Homo sapiens: one gene and its partner. The protein of the gene in region 1 interacts with the protein of each later gene in a pairwise test. Each region holds a gene or a part of one and is shown on either strand. Other genes may lie near its edges.

Evidence for each region.
Region 2: the proteins of NFE2L1 (region 1) and CD6 interact in a two-hybrid assay, tested with the Homo sapiens proteins (one large-scale study listed by BioGRID and IntAct).

Annotation. Positions count from the first base shown.
Region 1 is NC_000017.11:48,058,265-48,062,045, reverse strand, and holds the end of NFE2L1 (endoplasmic reticulum membrane sensor NFE2L1), read right to left. Parts: intron 3,752-3,781; coding exon 2,405-3,751; 3' UTR 501-2,404; downstream 1-500.
Region 2 is NC_000011.10:60,977,953-60,981,968, reverse strand, and holds part of CD6 (T-cell differentiation antigen CD6 isoform 1 precursor), read right to left. Parts: intron 1-4,016.

The DNA of each region.
Region 1 (3,781 bases):
GGGAAAGCAGATTCTAGCCCCCTCAGCTGGGGAGGTTTCCCAGTGTCCTAAACCTTGGCCTCCTGCTTCTCTTTAGTGGCCCTGCTCCTGCTTAACACAGTAGTGCTTGTCACATGTTAGTCGCTGCCATGGATTTCTCAGGTTTTCAACATCATAACTACACTCCAATTCTCTGCACCCCTTTGGCAGGTGAGGCCAATAGAAAAATAACAGCACAGTTGAGTTTAAAAATGTAGTTTGTAGCAGGTGGACAGGTAAAGAGCTGGGTTAAATGACACCTCCACCTATCCTAGCTGTATGAGAATAAAAAAACTCCGAATCCTTCCTGAGAGGATTGAGCTGGCTAACCCTATGAAGTACATGGTGTCTAATGCCTGCCCCCAAGGTTTAATACAATATTTAAGACTTGCCTTTTGAAGTTCCCCACTGTCAACCTCCCCAGTTCTCCACCCATCTTCCCATGTGAGCTCTGCCTTAGCCACGCAATGGCCAGTCCTCCCTACAATGAGTCCATTTCCTTTATTCTCAATTTAAATTCAAAGTGGGGAAAAAGTGCACTTAAGAATGAATCATCCATTTTATTTTATTTTGTCATGTGCTCAACAGCATCTCTCTCTCTCTCCCCTCTCCCTGGCAGGTCACAGAGATAAATTAAAAATAAAATCTACAAGGAAAATAATTTATAAAAGCACTCCCAGGTTCACACCTTCTATCCCTACTGCTCAGTTAGGCACCCCCTAACTGGGAATCAGTGCTTCCCCCCACCCCCATTTCACTCCCACTTGTCTGGGGCAGACGGTACTCCAGAGCCGGGCAGGGGTGAGGGCAGCAGTGGCAAACAGTTAAAAATAAAGACATTGTAGTCCTGGAACCATCTGGCCACCTTGGCACTCCCATGTCTGCCTCCCCCAGGCAGCCCTCCAGGAGCCTGTGCGAAGCTGGGGCTGTGGAGAAGCTGCCTGTGGCTGAGAGCTTGTGTGTTTGGGGAGGTGCTCTCAGCCTGTCATATGCACTTCTCAATCTTCTAGAAAGAAACCCAAAAAAGAAAGCAGACGACGACCTCGGGACAGAGGAGAAAAATCCCAAGTGTTCACACAGTTACACGGAGTCTTTATGGCAAAGAGAACATTTAGCAGCTTTGAATATTGGGCATCTCCTTTTTACTCAACACAAGCATTCTAGACCCTATAAGTGAAACAGGGCACAAGCCCTAAAAAAATCAAAGCGCAAGAAATTCTAAGAGGACTAGTTCTTTTGTTGTTGCTGGGTTGTGTAATTTTTTGTGTTTTCCCAGTGATAAGCCCAGTTGTTGGTAGGCAGAGGCCCGAGGGAAGGGTGACTCCCCAGTGTTGTGCTGAATCCTGCCTGGAGGCTGCTACACTAGATTCTCCATCATTCCTCTGCCTCACAGCAGTCCCAGAAGAGGAAGGCTGCAGGCCCAGTTCCCGGAGCACTGCCATCACCCTACCCCAGCTTACAGAAGAGCTCAGGCAGTCTGTGAGGGGTGGGGAACACAAACACCGGACCAGGGGAGGACGGCATACACATGCAGGCTCTGATGGAGACAATGGGAGCCTCAGCTCAGGGGTGGCTGGAGCACGGAGGGAGATGGAGTGGCAAGGCAGTGAATGACATGCGTGATGTTGGGGCTGTTGCAACATGGGACCACGTGACCCTTTCCTGTTCACTCTACCCTTTGACTCTAAATCTCAAAGCCAGTGTTGGGGCCCAGTGGCTCCATTCGATTGAAACATGGCCAATGATATCCAAGAGCTCCCCTTCAGGGATGTCAAAATGCAAGGAGCAGAAAGAGTTAACACCGTCCCTCCCCACCCCCACCCTGTGTCTGTGTACCCCACCCCCCCCGGGGTGAAAATTGGGGTTTATCACACCAGTGATCTAGGCCCACCAGTCACTCCAACCTGCTGCCTGGAATCCTGGCCAGAGCCAACCTTAACCTTCCCTCTGATTTTCTTCCCGCTTTGATTTTTTTTTCGGGGGGGGGGGGGTTCCTTCCTTCCTTCCTTCTATCCCTCCTTCCTGAAATGAGACTTTCTGCCACCTTCCCTTCCTCTCACAGGTCCATTCCTTCCCCTCTGTCGGCCTTTGCTCCACATAGCTCCTCTACCTCCAGCAACTCCACCACCACCCCTGCCTCACAGGAAAGGGGTAGGGTGAGGACCCTGTCCGTCTAAATGGTCTGGCCACTTCCACTCCACCCGAGTGGAGCTGAGCCAGCCAGTGCCTGCCTCTTCCTGTACACTGACCCGCAGTCATCCCATCTGAGAAGATATATTGGATAAGAAGGCATTTAAGTCCCCGCTGTAGGTCCAGGTCCAGGTCCAGGTCCAGCCCTTCTCCAGTTTCGGTCTTGGTGGGCTTCAAACCCCCTTCTTCCCCAGGCTCACTTTCTCCGGTCCTTTGGCTTCCTCTCCTGCCGCCGGGCCTGCTGGTCGGCCATCGTGCGGGGGATGAGGAGGACACTGCCGTCCCCGGCGTACTGGAGCGCATACTGACTGGGCGAGTAGGGTCGTCCGTTCTCATCTCGCAGCCGCCCAAACACCTCCTGGTACAGGCTCTGGACCTTCTGCTTCATCTGTCGCAGGGAGCGCAGGAACTCCACTTTCTCCCGCAGCAGCCGGGCTTTGTCACGCTGCAGGTCCTCCACATCACGCTCCAGATTCAGGATGGTGTCCAGCTTGCGCTTGCGGCAGTTCTGCGCCGCCATCTTGTTCTTGCCCCGGCGCCGGATGTCTCGGATGAGGCTCAGCTGGGCTTCACTCAACTGGTATTTGGACAGCAGTTCATTGAACTCCTCCACAGGCAGGTTGATGATTTTGTCATTGGTGAAAGGGATCTTCATGGCTCGGGCTCGGTGCTCATCCCGGCTCATCTGCTTGTCCAGGAAGTCAGCCTGCTTCTCCTTGCTGCCTTTCTTGAGGGCACTGGGTGGTGGCAGGTCGGCTGAGTCCAGGGCACTGGGTGCCATGTTGTATGTGTGGTTGTGGCCCACGTGCTCCAGGTAGGGCAGGCATGAGAGCTGAGCTGGATCCTGGTAGCTCATGCGGCAGAACTTGGAATACTCAGGCTGGTAGCCCACAGCACCCTCGGCCTCTTCCAGATCCAGGGTCTCAGAGTCAGAGCTGTAGCCAACCGCACCTTCCTCAGAAAAGGAGGAAGAGGCAGAGGAAGAAGCAGAGGAAGAAGAGGAAGAGGAGGAGGAAGAAGAGGAAGAACTGCCTTCAGAGCTGCTTAGGGAAGAAGGGCTATGGCTCGAGTCTAAGGAAAGGCCTGAGTCAGAGTCAAATTCCTCCTCCAGCTGGGAGGCCTGCACAGGGTTAAAGCCTTCTTCAATGGCCAGGTCCATAAGGCTGATCTCATCCAACATAGCTTCATCTAACAGACCCCCCAAAGGGTCAGGCAGCTCTGGGCCTGCTGTGTCATTGGCTGTGCCATTGAGCTGGGGTGGAAAGAAGAGCCCTGTCAGGTTGGTGGAGCCGAAGGTGGAGTTGAGGCTGGTAGAATTGCTGGGGGCCAACGGGAGCAGCGTGGAGCTACTGGCCACAGGCAGGCTTTCCACCTCGGGGCTGAAGAGTAAGAAGTCCTGGCTGCAGCCCCCCAGGGACGCCTGATGCAGGCTGACATTCTGATTGATGGGAGTGTTGGGGGCAAGGCTGTAGTTGGTGCTCAGTGGGTCTCCAGGAGGGGCACTGTACAGGATTTCACTTGCTGATGTGTTCACTTCCATGGCCTGGGAGGGGAGAAGAGCACCACTGTTCAC
Region 2 (4,016 bases), on another chromosome or scaffold:
AGTGTGCCCCCACCCCCTAGCACACGGTGGAGACCCAGGGGCACCCTTCCATACAAGGGAAAACAGGGGACCACATTCCTATGACAGGGCCATCTCCCTATCTCTCAGCATCTCCCAGGGACCAGAGACCCAGCCCCGGAGCTTCCTCCTCAGCCCTGCATCCTGCCTCCTGGCCTCTCTCAGCCGCCATTTTCAGGCAGAAGGCGTTCGGGCTGCAGGAGCCTACAAAATGGAGGGTGGGAACCTGGGCTTCCCTCTGCCTCCGTCTGTTGTCCCTGGGAGCGCCTGCCCGGTCCCAGTCGGAGCAGCAGCTGTGGCCACAGGTCTCTCCTAACACCCTAAGGAGCCTGGCATTTCTCCAAGCATGTCACCGCCAACATCTGGGGAGCCCCACACAGCTCTGAGCTCCCGTTGGCCCTGCTTTACAGCCGGGGAAACGAAGGCTGGGCATGGCCACTCAGCCTGAAGGAGGAGAGCTCAGGCTCCATAAAGTTCCATGACGGCCCAGCTGATGGTGGGTGAGGTGAAAAGTCCCTGGGGGAAGGGCGGACCTTTCCTGCAGGAGTCTTGAGTGGGGAGGGGTCCCCGGCCCAAACCCTACCCAATTCCAGGGCTGGGAAAAAGCAACGGATTTGGAGTCATGAGGTAAAACCAAGTATCTGTCATCTATTAGTGGTGCGATCTAGGAAAAGTCACTTTATCTCTCTGAGCCTGTCACTTACTCAGTAAAATGGAAGTATTAAATAGTAGCGCATACCTCCTTAGGGCTGTGACGAGGAGAAGGCAGGTTTACGTATTTGCAGAGTGCTGCACTGGAGGACGTGATCCTTGTACTGCCTGCCTAACACTTGTAAATGTACATTTTGTGGCGCACCTTCCGTGGGCCAGTCCCTGTGCTTGGCGCTCATTGAATCCTCATGGCACACCAGTCTGGGTCAGGAGGCAGAAAAGAGCCTGGACCTCAGCTCCTTTGGGAATTTCAGTCCTGCCTACCCAACATGACCCAACAGGACCAGCCGGACTGGCTGGTCAGCACCTCCCCTCAGCCGGGCCCTCGTAGGCTGTCCCACCTCCAGGTTTCTGCTCAAATGGGTCTTTCTTTCAATTTAATTAATTAATTAATTATTTTGAAACAGAGTCTCACTCTGTTGCATAGGCTGAAGTGCAGTGGTGCGATCTTGGGTCACTGTAACTTCCGCCTCCCGGTTTCAAGCGATTCTCTTCCCTCAGCCTTGCGGGTAGCTGGGATTACAGGTGCCCCCCATCCCCCGAACCACACCCGGCTAATTTTTGTATTTCTTTACTAGGGACGGGGTTTCGCCATATTGGCCAGGCTGGTCTCGGACTCCTGACCTCAAGTGATCCGCCCTACTTGACCTCCCAAAGTGTTGGGATTACAGGCGTGAGCCACTGCACCCGGCCTTCAAATGGGTCCTTCTTTCTGAAATACTTTTTTTTTTCTTTTTTGAGACAAGGTCTTGCTCCGTTGTCCAGGCTGGAGTGCAGTGGTGAGATCATGGCTCACTGCAGCCTCAACCTCCTGGGCTCAAGTCATTCTCTGCCTCAGCCTCCCGAGTAGCTGGGACTACAGGCATGAATCTCACATCCGGCTAACTTTTTAATTTTTTGTAAACGTGGGGGTCACACTATGTTGCCTATGCTGCTCTGGAACTCTTGGACTTCGGCCTCCCAACGTGCTGAATTACAGGTGTGAGTCACCAGAAAGGGCTGAAATCCTTTTTTCCCCCTTAACTTCTTATTTTCAAACTATGGACTCATAAGAAGTTGCCAAAATAGTGAAGAGAAATCCTGTGTACCCATCAGTCAGCTTCCCCCAGTGGTGACATATCATGACATGGATTTAAATTCAGCATTAGCCACCAACCTGGGACAAAATACATAACTTTCTGAGCCTCAGTTTCTCCACCCATAAAAAAGGGGTGATTGTCCTGGTGTTGTCAGGGTGGAACAGCATATGCATAGCTGGTGCTTGGAGAATATTAAGTCCCTGGTAATGGGTGGTGGTTGCAGCTGTCACTGGATTGTGCCTGTTGCCACACCTATCCCGGGGTGGTGCTGGTGTGTCTTACCACAACACTATAAACTGTTCAAGGGCAAACCTTCATGTCCTATGGCAGTGCCAGCACAGGGCCTGGTACTCAGCAGGTACTGAATGAATATGAAAATATGGAGCCTAGGCCAGGCACAGTGGCTCACACCTGTAATCCCAGCACTTTGGGAGGCTGAGGCGGGCGGGTGGATCACCTGAGGTCAGGAATTCAAGACCAGCCTTGCCAAAATGGTGAAACCCCGTCTCTACTAAAAATACAAAAAAATTAGCTGGGCATGGTGGTGGGTGCCTATGGTCCCCTTACTCGGGAGGCTGAGGCAGGAGAATTGCTTGAACCTGGGAGGCGGAGGTTGCAGTGAGCTGAGATCGCAGCATTGCACTCCAGCTTGGGTAACAGACTGAGACTCCGTCTCAAAAAGAAAAAAAAAAAAAAGAAAACAAAACAAAATATGGAGCCTGCTGCCCAGCAAGCTCTCCCCTGGCTCATGGTGCCTCTTTAATTTTGCCTTCCTGCTGGCCCCAAGGTGCAGGGCAACCCCCAGGCAAACCCCATGAGGGCGTGCCATGATGAGGGAGGCAGCCACACTTGACCCCATCTGTTGCTAAGAAGACTTCCAGGGTCCCTAGGACCTCAGAGGTCCCTCAGGGCTGTTCCTAGATTCAGTGGTGAGGCTGCAAGGCTAGGAGTTTGCATTTAGGGGAGAAACCCTATGCTAGAATAGAGCCCACAGGACAGCTGGCTGGAAACAAGCCAGGCAACTCCCACACAATGGAAAAAGCACCAGCCTGCTGGCTGGGAGACCCAAGCTCAGGTCCTGACAAGTCTCTTAGCCTCGCTAAACCTCAGTTTCCTCATCTATAAAATGAGGTCACCATGTGGGTGATGGAGCTCATTGTGCAAACAGCACTATGTTAACCACCGAGTCCTGTATTCACATAGGCAAGGGATTATCTTTGGTCTTGCTGTAGAGCATTTATAAGCTAACATTTCTGAGCACTGCATTTTGTTCGGCTATTTTCAGATGCATCATCTACATTAACTTGTACACTTTGGTGAGTTGGGGATTTTTATCTCTAGCATGCAGGCAAAGAAACCACCCTGGGGCCATGCAGAGATGCAATTCAGAACCCGCGTCTGCCTGACTCCGGGGTCCATGATTCTATACGACAGGATGCCGGCTGGGGTTGATACAGTGCCCTTCCTAGGGCTAAGTGTCTAGTGGCTGGGTCTCTGCTGCGTACAGCCAGATGCCCTGCTCCATAACCTGTAAAGCCTCAAGGAACATACATAAAGTACAAGCATGTTTAGGCTGGGTCCTTAGTGTTCAATTTACCCAGTTTTCCAGAAAGGAAACTAGGGCCAGAGAAAGGAAGGAACTTGACCAAGATTCCCCAGCAAGTTAGGACCAGAGCTAGTTCTCAAAGTCCACACCCACCTCACCCCTCCTCAAGGTTCCTTCTCCTCCCCAGGCTGCAGGGGCCTAGATTCCCAGAGCGGAATCAAGGGAGGTGAACTCGGGTGCCCCCCAACCTCAGGGCTCACTGGGAAAATCCAGGGACTTCTCAGGGTACTGGGGAGCCCCTGAAATGGGGGTCTCATGTGTAGGACGTAACCCCAGGCTGCAGAGCAGTCAGCGTCCCCAGGCTCAGTCTTGTCAGGGGACACCATGCCCACCCCCTTTGTCCTTTCTCTGGATCAGTGTTTTCAAAGTCTAGGGCACATACACAAAACTATGCAAAATTGATTTAGGTGGTCATTGACTTGGCATTATATACCACTATATTACATGATGAGGAAGTTATGCATACTCTTTATTTCCCTTTCAGCCTTTCTAATTACAGACTTGGAGGAGGAAATCTCCCATGGGGTTAGTCTTTAAAGTCTCTCTGACATCTACAGCCCTCCCTTTTGAGGAAAGGGAAAGCAGCAAATGCATCTGGCTAG